Linked DNA regions of Homo sapiens: region 2 is linked to region 1. Evidence: fine-mapped expression QTL. A gene starts in region 1. The other region holds a variant in brackets. All regions are shown on one strand. Distances are from middle to middle. Region 1 holds the start of SLC35F6 (solute carrier family 35 member F6). Region 2 overlaps CENPA (centromere protein A).

Region 1 (8,329 bases):
TGTCTCTACTAAAAATACAAAAATTAGCTGGGTGTGGTGGTGTACGCCTGTACTCCCAGCTACTTGGGAGGGTGAGGCAGGAGAAGCCTGGGCAACAGAGCAAGACTCCATCTCAAAAAAAAAAAAGTTCAGAAGAAACCTCTTCTGGGTCTTCCAACTCCGCACTGACTGAAAGGAGAAGAGGCTCCAATTAAAGAAAATTCTAGAACATTCTGTGGGTCCCAGGCTTGTTCCACACTCACACCTCTGCACCGCTGTACATGCCATGTCCATCTGCAAGAAAGCCCTTCTGCTGTCTATCTGGGGACCTCCTATGTTTTTTCCAGGATCCCACTTATACACCTTCTCCAGCAGGTCTTCCTGCAATAAGGGAGTCTGGTGCAGCCCCTTGAGAGTTCTGCGTCCACTCTGGCCTTTTTCACAAGTTCGAGGCTGTCTTAGGGCAAGTAGGAGGAGTTGGCAGACAGGTCCTATCTCTGTACCTCTTGTTGATCTATTTGTTTAATTTAAAAAATTTGTGTGTGTGTGAGATAGGGTCTTGCTCTGTTGCCCAGGCTGAAGTGCAGGGGCATGACCACGGTTTACTGCAGCCTCAAAGTCCTGTGCTCAAGCAATCCTCCTGCCTCAGCTTCTCCAGTAACTGGGCTCACAGGCCCGCACTACCACCCCTGACTAATTTTTAAGTGTTTTTGTAGAGATGAGGGTCTGGCTATGTTGCCCAAGCTGCTCTCAAATTCCTGGGATTAGGAGGCCTCAGCCTCCCAAAGTGCTAGGATAACAGGTGTGAGCCACCACACGGGCCACCTCCTGTTCATCTAAAATGAAGTTGCTAGCCATCTGGGCGTGGTGGCTTACACCTGTAATCCCAACACTTTGGGAGGCCAAGGTGGGTGGATCACTTGAGGTCAGGAGTTCAAGACCAGCCTGGCCAACACGGTGAAACCCCATCTCGACTATAAATACAAAAAATGTAGCTGGGCATGGTGGTGCTCACCTGTAATCCCAGCTACTCGGGAGGCTGAGGCAGGGGAATTGCTTGAACCTGGGAGGCAGAAGTTGTAGTGAGCCAAGAATGTGCCACTGCACTCCAGACTGGACGACAGAGCACCACTTCATCTTAAAAAAAACAAGAAGGTGCCAAGGCACAAAATATAAGTTAAACAGTTTACTTGAGCCAAAATGAGGACAGCTGCCCAAAAGACTCAGACGCAAGTAATCTTGGATGTGAGCTCCCTTCTCTCTTTGTTACAAACAGGTTTTTAAAGGCAGAAAAAGGAGGACAGGGAGTGGGCTGATACAAAGTTGTTTGTCAGAAATTCTCATTGGTTTACAGAAATAACATTGATTAGTGATTGGCTGTACAGTGCTATAGGATGTAAGATATGGTGTCCAGTGCAGCATTGTTAGGTTATAGCTACCTGTGGCAATAGCAAGCAGTTTCAAGACATAAATACATAACTCAAAGTGGGAGTAGGACGTGATTGCTGTCTTATTTTAATGTCTCTCTGGGCCTGATAACTTACAGGACTCGCATTCCTCAGGTAAAAGTTCTTTTCTCACCACAGAAACAAGATCTGCAGCATAGGGGAAGTGTGTTGGCTCGGTCTGAAGTCGTTTTCCAAAGTGTCAGAGACATTTAAATCAGAGCAACTCCATCTTGAACAGGGGCTGGGTAAAACGAGGCTGAGACCTACTGGGCTGCATTCCCAGGAGGTTAGGCATTCTAAGTCACAGGTCGAGATAGGAAGTGGGCACAAGGTACAGGTCACAAAGACCTTGCTGATAAAACAGGATGCAGTAAAGAAGCCGGCCAAAACCCACCAAAACCAAGATGGCGACAAAAGTGACCTCTGGTTTTTCTCACTGCTTGTTATACACTATTTATAATGCATTAGCATGCTAAAAGACACTCGCACCAGCGCGCGACAGTTTACAGATGCCATGGTAGCAACTGGAAGTTAACCTACATGGTCTAAAAAGGGGAGGAACACTTAGTTCTGGCAATTGCCCACCCCTTTCCCAGAAAACTCATGAATAATCCACCCCTTGTTTGGCATATAATCCAGAAATATCCATAAAAATAACCAATCAGCAGCCCTCGGGGCTGCTCTGCCAATGGAGTAGCCATTCTTTATCCTTTACTTTCTTAATAAACTTGTTTTCACTTTATGGATTCCCCGCAAGGTGCCAGGTCCAAGAACCCTCTCTTGAGGTCTGGATCAGAACCCCTTTCTGGTAACAAAAGGATCTTGTCGCTGGCGTGACAGGGCATGGGTGCAGACTAGAGCACTGGGAAAGGCATATTAGGAGCAGTTTTTTCTTTTCTTTTTCTTTCTTTTTTTTTTTTTTTTTGAGATGGAGTTTTCGCGCTTGTTGCCCAGGCTGGAGTGCAATGGCTCGATCTTGGCTCACTGCAACTTCCATCTCCCAGGTTCAAGCGATTCTCCTGCCTCAGCCTCCGGAGTAGCTGAGATTACAAGCATGCACCCCCACACCTGGCTAATTTTTTGTATTTTAGTAGAGATGGGGTTTCACCATGTTGGTCAGGCTGATCTTGAATTCCGACCTCAGGTGATCCACCTGCCTCAGCCTCCCAAAGTGCTGGGATTACAGGTGCGAGCCACCGCGCCTGGCCTTTTTTTTTTCTTTTTTTAAGACAGGGTGTCACTTTGCCACCCAGGCCGGAGTATAGTGGCATGATCTCAGTTCATTGCAACCTCCACCTCCAGGGACTCAAGCGATCCTCCTACTTAGCCTCCTGAGTAGCTGGGATTATGGGTACTTGTCATGACACTCAGCTAATTTTTGCATTTTTAGTAGAGACTGAGTTTTGCCATGTTGCCCAGGCTTGTCTGGAAATCCTGAGCTCAAGCAATCAGCCCGCTTCAGCCTCCCAAAGTGCTAGGATTATAGGTGTGAACCACCACACCCAGCCAAGAGTAGGATTTTAAACACCAGAACCCCTTGAGGACTAAGCTCTGATTTTTTTTACCTTGCCCAAATTCCTACCTAAGAGGTCTGGAGAGTCATGCCCTACAAACCATAAATTCTCATCAGATGGGTTTTATTTAACCCTATATATCATGACTTACTTTCCAATCTGACTCTGGCATAATATTATGTGACTAAGAAGAAAGTCAAAAGATTTTACCCCAAAACATTTTTCTTTGCCATATCTTGAAATGGCCCTGCAAATCTGTCTTTTGTGGGGGAAAATTTGCATCTGTAAAGAATCTCTATTACCGGCCGGGCGTGGCGGATCACGCCTGTAATCCCAGCACTTTGGGAGGCCGAGGCAGGTGGATCAGGAGTTCAAGACCAGCCTGGCCAACATGGTGAGACCCCCCCCATCTCTACTAGAAATACAAAATTTAGCCAGGCGTGGTGGCAGGCACCTGTAGTCCCAGCTACTTGGGAGGCTGAGGCAGAGAACTGATTGAATCCGGGAGGTGGAGGTTGCAGTGAGCCGAGATCGCACCACTGCACTCCAGCCTGGGCGACAGAGCAAGACTCCGTCTCAAAAAAAAACAAAAATCTCTATTAACATAGATAGATATTTTTCCCGTTTCCTGCCCCACCCTCTCCCCTCCTCCCGGCTTTGAGTTGTCCTACCTTTCTGGACCAAACCAATGTATTTCTTAAATGTATTTGATTGATGTCTCGTGTCTTTCTAAAATGCTGCGCCCCGACCACTTTGGGCACATGTTCTCAGGACCTCCTGAGGGCTGTGTCACGGGCCATGGTCACAAATATTTGGCTCAGAATAAATCCCTTCAAATATTTTAGAGTGTGACTCTTCGTCAACACCCTCTTCAAACAAACCTAGGGATGGTCTTTCTGCCTGGATGCCTCAGCTGCGACCAGAAAGTCCACAAAGGAGCAGTGAAGCAGGGCTTGGTGCAGAGGCCATGCGGAAGGCACGGATTTTTGGAGACTGGAGAACCCAAGCGCAAATCCCTACCCCACTGCTCACCAGCAGGTTCTTAAGCAAATCACTCTGCTTCGCTGAATTTACTGTCCTCAGCTATAAAATGGTGTCCTCGGCAACTGGAGCTAGATGCCTTCGCCACTTTGCTGAAAGATATGAACTGTGCCCAAGGTGGGCGGTATCAGATAGGAGCCCCGAAGTGGAAACGTCCAGCGTGGGAATCTCCTCTCTACAGGGTCCCCAAGGAACTCCCGGCAGGCCCACTTCAGGGCTCCTTTCTGACACCGCCCAGCTCAACCTCTCAAAACGATTCACAAAATGCTGTAATAGCCACGATGCACCCTCACTGCACTGTCCCATCCGCCCCTTTTACAAATAGGAAGACCCAAAGATAAAAATAAGAAACCAAGGCCAGGCGCGGTGGTTCACGCCTGTAATCCCAATACTTTGGGATGCGGAGGAGGGCGGATCACCTGAGGTCGGGAGTTCGAGACCAGCCTGGCCAACATGGTGAAGCCCTGTCTCTACTAAAAATACAAAAAATTAGCCGGGCGTGGTGAAGGGCGCCTGTAATCCGAGCTACTCGGGAGGCTGAAGCAGGAGAATCGCTTGAACCCAGGAGGCGGATATTGCAGTGAGCCGAGATCATGCCATTGCACTCCAGCCTGGGCGACAGAGTGAGACTCCTTCTCAAAAAAATAGAAAAAAGAAACCCAAAAAGGCGGGGGAGAGTGAGGAAGAAAAGAAAAAAAAAACTGGAAGGCCTGGGCCGTGATTTGCCAGGGCCACGGCGTGGCCACCAAAGCGCTCCAGGACGACTCGGCAGAGCGCGGGCACCGTGGCTCAGGCGCGCTCCCCGGGGGCGGGGCGAGCAGGAGGGGTCACGTGACGCCCGGCCCGGAAGCGCTCGCGCAGGAGACCCCGGGTGACGGGGCCCGGCGCCGCTAACTGGAGCGAACCCCAGCGTCCGCCGACATGGCCTGGACCAAGTACCAGCTGTTCCTGGCCGGGCTCATGCTTGTTACCGGCTCCATCAACACGCTCTCGGCAAAGTGAGTCTGGGCCCTGCCGGGCGTGCGGGCCCTGGCGACCCCGGCGCTCGTTCTACGCCTTCCCCCTTCTTGGCCCTGCCCTCCTGGCTTCCCCTGCTTTCCCACTTGCTCCGGTCAGTTCGCGCGCGTTATGACCACCCAAGGGATGCGAGGCCCGGGGAAATGCGGAGCGGGGCTGCGCCCCGGACGGGGGGATCCGAGCCCCGGCTTTGATTTGCTGTACAGCCTCCGCTCCTGTTTCCACGTCTTTTAACAGGAGGGTTGGCCGATTCCTTTCCACGGCCCTTCCAGTGCTGGCGTCCAAGCCTGAGCACCTCCCTCCACGAGCTGGGAGAGACCCCTGGACTTGTGCACATGAGCCGCAGTAGTGGCTGTGCAGGCCGAGTGACCCAGTGAGCGTGGAGGCCTCAAGCGGCAGACAGGGAGGTGCCCCACGGCCCCTCAAGGATGAGGGGTTAGAGCTGTGCTTTGAAGCTTAGGTGGGATTTCGGAATGTGTCTGAGACTGTAAGTCAAGGAAAGTCTACGGAAAGGCCAGATCAAAGTCGATTGTAACCAGCATCAAATGCCCAGGTTAGATTTTCTCTCATAATCAGAAAAGTGCTTTTGAGCTGGGGAATGACATGTTGAAAGTGATATGATTGACTCAATGACATGAGGAGTGGTTTGGTGCAGGAAAAACCACTCCAAGGCTGCTGCATAGCAGATGAGGGGAACTAGGAGGTGGCAGTGAGAAGAGAAAGGAAGGGACAACTGGTGGCAGAGACCAGGTGTGAATGGCCACAGGCCTGACCCACATGAGCAAGAAACAAGGATCACTCCAGGGTTTCTGCCTGGGAGAAGAAAAGTGCCATTAACTCAGACAGAGAGGGCAAGTGGCCAGTTCAGCTCTGATGTATGGGGGTGAGAGGGGGGACAGTTCCCAGGAGGTTAGGGACTAAGGACCCAGGCAGTCATGAGACTGAGGGACAGGGCCTAGCCTCCCCTCTGTTGTGGGCAGGATGGCATTTCTTTGTCTCTCTCTGTCTCCATCTCAGGGCAGGGCCTTCCTGCCCCTCCTTTTCTTGTTGCCCAGGCTGGAGTGCAATGGCACGATCCCATGTATAAGGTACCTACGGTGTGTAAGGGAAGGGGACAGAAGTGACCAAGAGGCGATCTCTGCCTTTGAGATGCTTGGAATCTGAGGTGGAGGAGACAGACGTGTACGCACACGACAGTCACAGTGTTCTCCCTTCCCCAAACGGTGGGCACAGTCAGTGGAGTCCTGGGTGGGCCCCACCTGTTCCTCTGGTTCACCTCTGGCCAACTGTGCCTTGTGGAGAACTACTAGCTTCCCAGGCCCTGCATCCTCCTGAGGATCACTCCTCATGCTGAATCCTTAGCTGTTCAGAGGCCCCAGCCTGAGGGCTCCCATCTCAGGATCTGAACACAGCAAAGCAAGTCTTCTGTTCTGTCATGCCAGCCAGGGCCTCTGTCAAGTGCTTAGAGAGCGGTTGTAAGTCCACCAGGGCTGCTGCCCACAAGGAGAATCCAGATTGCCAGTTACTGCTGGGGTAAACTGTGCTGATTCACCTCCTTCCTTAGAAAACTCCAAACCAGTCAGGTAGGAAGCTTAGAGATCCTCAATCCCAGAAGGCGTCGCCTTTAAAGGCTGCCTGAGAGTCAGGAAAGAGGCTCCCAGGTGACAGACCCAACTTTTGGTCCTGTCCCCTGCCTGACAGCTGGTGTGGGGCCTCTCAGGATCCTCCCACCCCAAGATGGGCCCCCAAATTGGACCCTAAACAGTGTTCTAAGGTCAAACCACAAGAAGGGATACTCTTAGGGAGAAAGAACATGTGGGAGCAGCTGCATGCACCCCGATGTGAAGTATGGATTTGAAATCACATTTCTGGCCCGGCGCGGTGGCTTACGCCTGTCATCCCAGCACTTTGGGAGGCAGAAGCGGCTGGATCACTTGAGGTCAGGAGTTTGAAACCAGCCTGACCAATATGGTGAAACTGCATCTCTACTAAAAATACAAAAATTAGCTGGGCGTGGTAGTGCGCACCTGTAGTCCCAGCTACTTGGGAGGCTGAGACAGGAGAATTGCTTGAACCCGGGAGGCGGAGGTTGCAATGAGCCAAGATTGCACCACTGCCCTCCAACCTGGGTGACAGAGTGAGACTCGGTCTCAAAAAAAAAAATAAAAGGAAATCACATTTTTGACCCACGATTTCCAGCAGGCACAGACAGACAAGCATGTGCTGACAACTAGCAGAAGCATCTCATGCACAAAGAGCACCTCGCATGCCCCAGGCCCTGCTCTGCCCTTTCATGTGTGAACTCAGGGAATTCTCATAACCACCCTATCAGGCAAAGACAGGGGCTGATATTCCTGTATAAGGAAACTGAGGTAGGAAATGATTAAATTCCTTGCCCAAGTTCAACTTAGCTACTAAGTGGCAGAGTTTATAGTTGAGCCAGCATGGTCTGGCTCTAGCATCCATGCTCTTAACCACCACTGGAGGGTGTGGCTGGGGACTTCTCCAGTCATTTTGGGGTCATTTAGAGTTGTTAAAAGCATAGAAATCATCCAGTCTAATCCCCACAATTTACAAAGGAGGCCTCAGGAGAAGTTTCTTTCTGTGATTCAACTGTTTGGTGTCTGAATGAAGGCTGGAACCCAGGCCTCAGGACTTTAAGTCCTGTTCTTTTATGACTGTGATACCCCAGAGTCCCTCCTTCCTGGGAGTTTCCTCTCACAGCTCCCCAGGCCAGGACAGAGAAGCCTGTGCTTGTGGAAGTTGTAAACCTGTAAGTGGCATCTGCGCTCCCAGCCTTTGATGTGCCTCTCTCCAGGACTGGGCTGCCAGCCTCTCAGCCAGCCCAGAGACACTGCTGACAGGGTCCTCCCGCTGGAGTCCAGGCCACTCAAGGTTCAGACTGACAGCCTGTGGTTGTCTCTGGCAGTTTCTTGGCCTGTGACAAGAGTGATGTTTCCCTTCCCAGGTTCTTGGGAGGATGAAAGGCAGTGGATGAGGAAGCACATCTGAGCACGTGCTGCCTGCTGTGCTGGGGCGGCAGGTCAGCTTTCCTCTCTGCGGCCCCATCCCTGGGTCCTGGCAGGGGGCCCCTCCCTGTGAAGTGGCTTCTTCTTTCCCTGGCTGTTTTCTCAAAACCTCCTCACTAGCACCTTCTGTCGATCATCTTCTTTAGGCCAAGCCATTTCTGTCTACGTGAGCCAGTGCCCCATCCACAGGTACTCATTTCAGAACCCCAGTCTCCTGAATCCAACTGAGGTTCTACATATGAAGAGCCGGGGTCAGCTGGGCACTGTGGCTCCAGCTTGTAATCCCAGACTGGAGGCTGAG
Region 2 (8,329 bases), 28 kb after region 1:
TTTTGTTTTGTTTTGGAGACGGAGTCAGGCTTTGTCGCCCAGGCTGGAGTGCAGTGGCGCGATCTCCGCTCACGGCAAGCTCCGCCTCCTGGGTTCACGCCCTTCTCCTGCCTCAGCCTCCCGAGTAGCTGGGACTACAGGCGCCTACCACCACGCCCGGCTAATTTTTTGTATTTTTGGTAGAGACAGGGTTTCACCGTGTTAGCCAGGATGGTCTTGATCTCCTGACCTCGTGATCCGCCCACCTCGGTCTCCCAAAGTGCTGGGATTACAGGCGTGAGCCACCGCGCCCGGCCGGCTTTTTGGTTTTTTGTTGTTTTTTTTTTGAGACCCATCGCCCAGGTTGGAGTGCAGTGATGCCACGAGGGTTCACTGCAGCCTCAACTTCCCAGGCTCAGGTGCTTCTCCCAGCTCAGCCTCCCGAGTAGCTGGGACTACAGGCATATGCCACCATGCCGGCTAATTTTTTGTATTTTTAGTAGAGGTGGGATTTTGCCATGTTGCCTAGGCTGGAGTAGGTTGTTTCTAGATGTTGCTGTTGCGAATGGGATTTTTTTTCTTTCCCAAAACACGAGGATTTAACCTTTGCTTCCAGCCAACTTGCTGAATTCTCGTTCACCCTAGTCGTTTTTAGTTGCTCCAGTTGGAATTTTTAAGTAGACTATTATGTCATCTGCAAATAACTTTTGAATCTTCCGTTTTCATTTCTACACATTTTATTTATTATTGTATGGTACTAGTAAGGCCCTGAGACTCACTAAGAGTGGTGTTTTGGTCATCTTTGTCTTGTTTGTAATTTTAACAGGAATATTAAGTATGATGTTTGCTGTTGCTTTCCAAGGTAGAAGCATCCTTCTACTCCTGGTTAAATGGAAGGTTTATCTCAAATGGGCAGTCAACACTTCTTGGCAGTCCTACCACCTTTGTCTGGTATTCTTTCTTCAATTTTCGAGACAGAGTCTCACTCTTGTCATCCAGGCTGTAGTGCAGTGGTGCTATCTTGGTTCATTGCAGCCTTGACCTCCTGGGCTCATGCAGTCCTCCTGCTTCACCCTCCTGAATAGCTAGGATGACAGACCTGCACCACCATGCTTGACTATTTTTAAACCTTTTTTGTAGAGACAAATTGTTTTGTCTCTACAGAACAAAAAAAAAACAGCCATCGTGCCTGGCCTTTGTCTGGAATTCTTGCTTTTCCATTCTCCCCATGACTATTTCATACCTTTTTCTCCCTCCTCGACTTCCTACAGCTCCATTCCCCCCACTCACTCTTAGCCAATAATGGCCTTGACTAGGTGTCCCCCTTCCTATCAAAGCCCTTCCTTCTACATGGGGTCTTGGTCATATCCTTCTTTCACCTACAGAGGAGCTTTCTACCTGTGCTTAGATAAATCCAGACACTTCACACTGGCATCGGCACATATGCTCTAGTATTTATGATGTTTTGTTTTGTTTTGTTTTTGTTTTTGTTTTTGAGACGGAGTTTCCCTCTTGTTGCCCAGGCTGGAGAGCAACGGCGTGATCTCGGCTTACCGCAACCTCTACCTCCCGGGTTCAAGCGATTCTCCTGCCTCAGCCTCCCGAGTAGCTAGGATTACAGGCATGCACCACCGCATCCGGCTAATTTTGTGTTTTTAGTAGAGACGGGGTTTCACCATGTTGGTCAGGCTGGTCTCCAACTGCCAACCTCAAGTGATCCGCCCACCTTGGCCTCCCAGAGTGCTGGGATTACAGGCCTGAGCCGCTGCGCCTGGCCGTATTTACGATCTTAAGAGAAAGGGCAGGAGTGTTTCCTTGACCCCACATTCTCACTTCCCTATACCTCCCATTTCCCTCTACTTCCCTTCATAGCTGTCCTTTTAAAATAGCCAGACTTGTTAGGTCCACATACATTGCATCTGATTCCTCCCTTCCTAGTGACCCTACAACCCACTCCAATCTGACTCCCCACAACCACTACCCCCACTTCTAATCTGCTTGAACTACTCCTGTCAGGGTCACTAGCACCTTTTGTAGTGCCAAATCCAGTAGGTGGGTCTGTGTTCTTACTGTGTCTCAGAAGCATTTGACGCAGTGGGCCTCTTTCTCCTTGAAGCGTTCTGTTCCCTTGGCTTCCATGCCACTGTGCACTCTGGCAGTTCTGCTTGGTGTTCTCTACTGCCTGTGCTGCCTCCCTCGGCTCCTTGATGTTGGACTTCCTTGACATCCTTTTCCTTTCTACCCCCTCCCTAGGTGGTCTCATCTCCTCCGTGGCTCTAAATCCCACTCATACATTGACAGCTCTCAAATATCTGTATACCTGGATCTCTCCTCTGACCCCAGATACCTATATCTAACTGCCTTTCTACCTGAAGGCTCTTGGTTATGTTAAACTTAACACACCCAAAACTGAACTTCTGGTTACTCCCCTCCAGCCCCTTCATCCTCAGCTTCCCCATTTCAGTAAATGGCACAACTACCCACCCAGTTGTTCAAACCACAAGCCTGGGAGACCCCCGTCTCCAATACAAATGCAGGTCCAGATAATTCTACTTCCAAACTGCATCCTTAATCACTCCATTTTCACCATCTCTGCTCCCACTAGCCTAGTCCAAGCTACCAGCAGCTCTCGAGCAACTGTGAGAGCCTCCTAATCAGCTGCCACTCCACTTCCACTCTGTCCCTTTCTACTTCTTTCCTTACACAGCAGCTGGAATGACCTTCCACATCTCTATCCTGCATAAAACTCTTCCCTGGCTTCTTATTACAGTAGGATTAAATTCCATCTCCTCATGTTGGCATTTCAAGACCCAGCTACTAAATTTTTGATCCCAGTTCTTTTCCATGATCTCTCTAATTGGTTACTTTTCATAACCACTTGTTCTTGGGTCATGGATTTCATATCTCTGTTACCTCTCTGAGTTCATTAACCATTTTTCTCTCAAAGTTTCTATTTCTTTTCTCTATTAACTCAATTTCCTCTGGTATTGGCTATTTTGTTTGTTGAGTTTGGTTCCTTTCTTTCATGGTATTGGCCTTCTTAAATTGTTGGGTGATCTTTAGTTGTGTTCATCTTCAAATTTTCTGTGAATGCTATGTCTTGTTTATTTTTTTATTTTATTTTATTTATTTATATATTTTTGTTTGAGACACAGTCTCATTCTTGTTGCCCAGGCTAGAGTACAGTGGTGCGAGCTTGGCTCACTGCAACCTCCATCTCCTGGGTTCAAGCAATTCTCCTGCCTCAGCCTCCCAAGTAGCTGGGATTACAGGTGCCTGCCACCATGCCCGGCTAATTTTTGTATTTTTAGTAGAGATGGGTTTCTCCATGTTCATCAGGCTGGTCTCGAACTCCTGACCTCAGGTGATTGACCCACCTTGGCCTCCCAAAGTGCTGGGATTACAGGCGTGAGCCACCGCACCCAGCCCTATGTCTGTTTATTAAAGACTGCCTCCAGTGACTGGATTGCCAACTGGTGGTGGGGAGGGAGGGAGGTGTCAGTAGTTTTTCTCCTGGGCATGGGTCTTCCCAGTTTTAAATGTTATCAGTCTTCTGGACACTGCCCTGTTTCATTGGCCTGTGTTCTCTAGCCTCACCCAGGGATGGTCTCCTCTGCTGGCTGCCTGGCACAGGCCATCTCTGGATTGTCTCACCTACCCTACTTGCTCTTGCAGCTCTTCTAACACTTCGTGATTAGTTTATTGTATTAAATGCCTTCTATCGAACTTGGTGTAGAGTCTCTTTGCTTGGCTGGATCCTGAATAACATTTCTGAAACAATTTTATCCGTCAACATGTTATTTTTGTATTTTGTTTGTTCAACTTATCAGA[T/C]GTTCACTCATCTTGATCCTTGGTTGTAATTATGGAGCAACTGTGCTGTTTTTTCTTTAACTTTATTTTCACTAACTTATTTTCTAATATTTCTTTTGTTCTATCTTGTTTTGGTTTACTTTAATAACTCTGTAATACTTAATTTGACTGCTTGGCTCAGATACCTTTTAGTGTTCTTGTTTTCTAATAGGAACACTTTAAGGCTATGCATTTTCCTCTAGTACTATTTTGGCTGTATCTCATAAGTTTTGGGATATGGGCTTTTTATTGTTATTCATTTCCAAATAGTCTAATTTCAATTAAGTTTCCTCTTCAACACAGGTTAGTTAGAAGAAACTGGTTTTTGATTCATGAGTTTTTAATTTCCAATTAGAGAATTTGGCTTTTTTGATTCCTACTTTTGGGAATGTTTTTAAAATTATTTTCTTTTTTGTTCTTGTTGGAACCAGGATTTGAGCCAAAGGCTCTGTCTCCACAGCCCAGGTGCCTGACACTGACACTGAGTTAGGCCACACCTTACACAGGTCTCAGCTTGGCCACTAATGAGGGCTGGCCAACCATCTTCACCTCGCTGGGCCTCAGGATGATCAAGACAAGGGAATTGTACTAGTCTCTCAGATTCTTTCCAGCTGTAAAAAACAAACCAACAAAAAATCTAAAACCAAAATAACTGAGCTTCCAATCTAGGTGGGAAAGATCTAAGACTTGTACAAAGTCCTGCAAAGCCCAGAGGAGGGCGGTCACCCATCTGTTTGGAAGGATCAGGATTCGGGAAAGACTTCATGGAAGAGTTAGCATTTAAAATCAACTGCAGAGGATCATTCACTCATTCATTTAACAAATGTTTATTTAGCACCTATCTGCTATTTTCTAATTGCTGAAGATAGCAGCAAAATTACTATATATCAGGTTGGTGCAAAAGTATTGTGGTTTTTGCCATAACTGCAATGACTTTTGCAGCAACCTAATAAAACAGACAAAAATCCCTGCTCTGTGGAGGGTAGGCACATAGATATAGTCTAGCAATTTGACAGCTTACCTGACTCAGCCAAGCTGCGAGGCACCACCTATTTTCCACTGAACTTACCTTTCTTTTGCTCAGGCGCTTCCTCCCATCAACACAGTCGGCGGAGACAAGGTTGGCTAAAGGAGATCCGAAAGCTTCAGAAGAGCACACACCTCTTGATAAGGAAGCTGCCCTTCAGCCGCCTGGTAAGCTCCGGGAGCTTCCCACCAACCCCTATGCCACCCTCCTTTTTTTAAATTTTCCCAGGTATTAGGGACCCTACTGTCTCTTAACTAACTGGCCAAGGGACCTCTTTTGTAACCTGGTAGGGGATTCTTTTCTGAAAACATGAGCCCTCCAAGAGCACCTTGTAATTCTTTATGGAATTGATTTCTAACCTCTACTACCTTTTTAAAACTGTAGTTTTTGACTGTATAAATAGGAACTCTCTCGTTTGTCCACCTTAGATCCCTTTTCCTATCCTGGGAGATTGCCTCTCATCACCCAATTACTGGTGATTTCCCCATCACCAGTAAGAGATCCGCCAGTTCCTAAGCTCCCAGGAGTCAACACCTGCTCCTAATTGGGTCCTAAGATTAAGAGCCAGGAAAAAATAATGGAAAGGAAGATTCACTGGAACTCATGGAGAGCATCATTGTCCCTTGAATCTCTCTTCTGTTACTCCCTACTCCTACTCCTCCCCTTCCCCACTCCTTCACAGGCAAGAGAAATATGTGTTAAATTCACTCGTGGTGTGGACTTCAATTGGCAAGCCCAGGCCCTATTGGCCCTACAAGAGGTAAGAAGGCACCAAGGCACAATTGGGTGAGGGCTGAGTGGGAGAAAGAGGCAGCCTAGAATTCTCCAGTGCTGACTGGAGTGTCACATGCTGAATCTGACCTCTGGAAAAGAACAATGAGGTAACCTCTGAGGGTTTGGAGGCTGGATTCTGCGTGGTGATAGCAGAATTCCCTGGCAAAGTTCAGTCTCATTCTGTGAATAGTTTCCTACAATCCTTTGAGCCCTCAGAGATTAAGTTTAGCAGGTTTCCAAAAAAAAGCAGCCCGTGGCCCTTCATCTGTGTCCGTCTTTTTCTCTTTCTGTCTCCAGGCAGCAGAAGCATTTCTAGTTCATCTCTTTGAGGACGCCTATCTCCTCACCTTACATGCAGGCCGAGTTACTCTCTTCCCAAAGGATGTGCAACTGGCCCGGAGGATCCGGGGCCTTGAGGAGGGACTCGGCTGAGCTCCTGCACCCAGTGTTTCTGTCAGTCTTTCCTGCTCAGCCAGGGGGTAAGCTCATCCTCTTTCACAGGACTGGGGCTGGAATTTCTCAAGTAATTTCCTTTCTCCATCCATAGTCCCTTGTCACCTCGCCTTCCCTTTGTTCTCTAGTAAAGGTTGATCTAGTTTTGACTGCCTGGGACAATGTGGTTTGTGCCCTTTTGTGCAATGTTAGATAAAAGATATCTTTCTATTAAATAATAACCAGATGACCCTAATTTCTTTTGGTTGTTATTGTTGTTGTTTTATTTTTATAAGACAGGGTCTCTGTCATCAGTGTTGCCATCGTGGCTCACTGCAACTCCTGCCTTGGCCTCCCAAAGTGTTGAGATTACAAGAATCAGATGACCTCATTTTGATTAAGAGAAAACTTTCTAATAAACTTTCTAATAAAAGAGAACACTTTCTAATAAAAACTTTCTCTTTTTTGATTAAGAGAAAGTTTTCTTACTTTTGAAAATGGCTTGTTAGTAAGTGTGCTTCCTTAATTTCAGGGATGATACCGGGGACTCTCCAGAGCCATGACTAGATCCAATGGATTCTGCGATGCTGTCTGGACTTTGCTGTCTCTGAACAGTATGTGTGTGTTGCTTTAAATATTTTTCTTTTTTTTGAGAAGGAGAAGACTGCATGACTTTCCTCTGTAACAGAGGTAATATATGAGACAATCAACACCGTTCCAAAGGCCTGAAAATAATTTTCAGATAAAGAGACTCCAAGGTTGACTTTAGTTTGTGAGTTACTCATGTGACTATTTGAGGATTTTGAAAACATCAGATTTGCTGTGGTATGGGAGAAAAGGCTATGTACTTATTATTTTAGCTCTTTCTGTAATATTTACATTTTTTACCATATGTACATTTGTACTTTTATTTTACACATAAGGGAAAAAATAAGACCACTTTGAGCAGTTGCCTGGAAGGCTGGGCATTTCCATCATATAGACCTCTGCCCTTCAGAGTAGCCTCACCATTAGTGGCAGCATCATGTAACTGAGTGGACTGTGCTTGTCAACGGATGTGTAGCTTTTCAGAAACTTAATTGGGGATGAATAGAAAACCTGTAAGCTTTGATGTTCTGGTTACTTCTAGTAAATTCCTGTCAAAATCAATTCAGAAATTCTAACTTGGAGAATTTAACATTTTACTCTTGTAAATCATAGAAGATGTATCATAACAGTTCAGAATTTTAAAGTACATTTTCGATGCTTTTATGGGTATTTTTGTAGTTTCTTTGTAGAGAGATAATAAAAATCAAAATATTTAATGAAAATGGACTTACTGTTACAGCATAGAGATTATACTGTACTTTTTGTGTGTTAAAAATAAGTTCTTTATTTGTTTGCAAACAGCCACAATTTTTTTTTCTTTTTTTTTTTTTTGAGATGGAGTCTTTTTTTTTATTGATCATTCTTGGGTGTTTCTCGCAGAGGGGGATTTGGCAGGGTCATAGGACAATAGTGGAGGGAAGGTCAGCAGATAAACAAGTGAACAAAGGTCTCTGGTTTTCCGAGGCAGAGGACCCTGCGGCCTTCCGCAGTGTTTGTGTCCCTGGGTACTTGAGATTAGGGAGTGGTGATGACTCTTAATGAGCATGCTGCCTTCAAGCATCTGTTTAACAAAGCACATCTTGCACCGCCCTTAATCCATTTAACCCTGAGTGGACACAGCACATGTTTCAGAGAGCACAGGGTTGGGGGTAAGGTCACAGATCAACAGGATCCCAAGGCAGAAGAATTTTTCTTAGTACAGAACAAAATGAAAAGTTTCCCATGTCTACTTCTTTCTACACAGACACGGCAACCATCCGATTTCTCAATCTTTCCCCCACCTTTCCCCCCTTTCTATTCCACAAAACCGCCATTGTCATCATGGCCCGTTCTCAGTGAGCTGTTGGGTACACCTCCCAGATGGGGTGGTGGCTGGGCAGAGGGGCTCCTCACTTCCCAGAAGGGGTGGCCGGGCAGGGGCGCCCCTCACCTCCCGGACGGGGCGGCTGGCCGGGCGGGGGGCTGACCCCTCCTCCTCCCTCCCGGAGGGGGCGGCTGGCCGGGCAGAGGGGCTCCTCACTTCCCAGTAGGGGCGGCCGGGCAGAGGCACCCCTCACCTCCCGGACGGGGCGAACAGCCACAATTTAAACAAGATAATTAAGGGAGGTGGTTTTGCCTCTGGTGGAGTAGAGTATGACTAGATGAAAACCTTGCCCTTCTGTTGTAACTGAAAGCAATTTA

Evidence for each region.
Region 2: its variant is fine-mapped to the expression of SLC35F6 in whole blood (INTERVAL, PIP above 0.99).

The regions. Positions count from the first base shown.
Region 1 is chr2:26,759,447-26,767,775 of GRCh38, forward strand. SLC35F6 (solute carrier family 35 member F6) reads left to right here and starts at 4,838. Exons shown (of 6, transcript NM_017877.4): 1 at 4,838-4,980. The coding sequence starts at 4,904. RefSeq lists enhancers at 1-320, 4,495-4,694 and a silencer at 4,705-5,014.
Region 2 is chr2:26,787,219-26,795,547 of GRCh38, forward strand. It overlaps CENPA (centromere protein A), which reads left to right. Exons shown (of 5, transcript NM_001809.4): 2 at 4,913-5,022; 3 at 5,538-5,615; 4 at 5,927-6,108; 5 at 6,594-7,371. The coding sequence ends at 6,061. Among named protein-coding and RNA genes, the nearest start is that of CENPA, 5.3 kb to the left of the region's middle. RefSeq lists a silencer at 7,489-7,689. The variant T/C (reference allele first, on the strand shown) is at 3,811.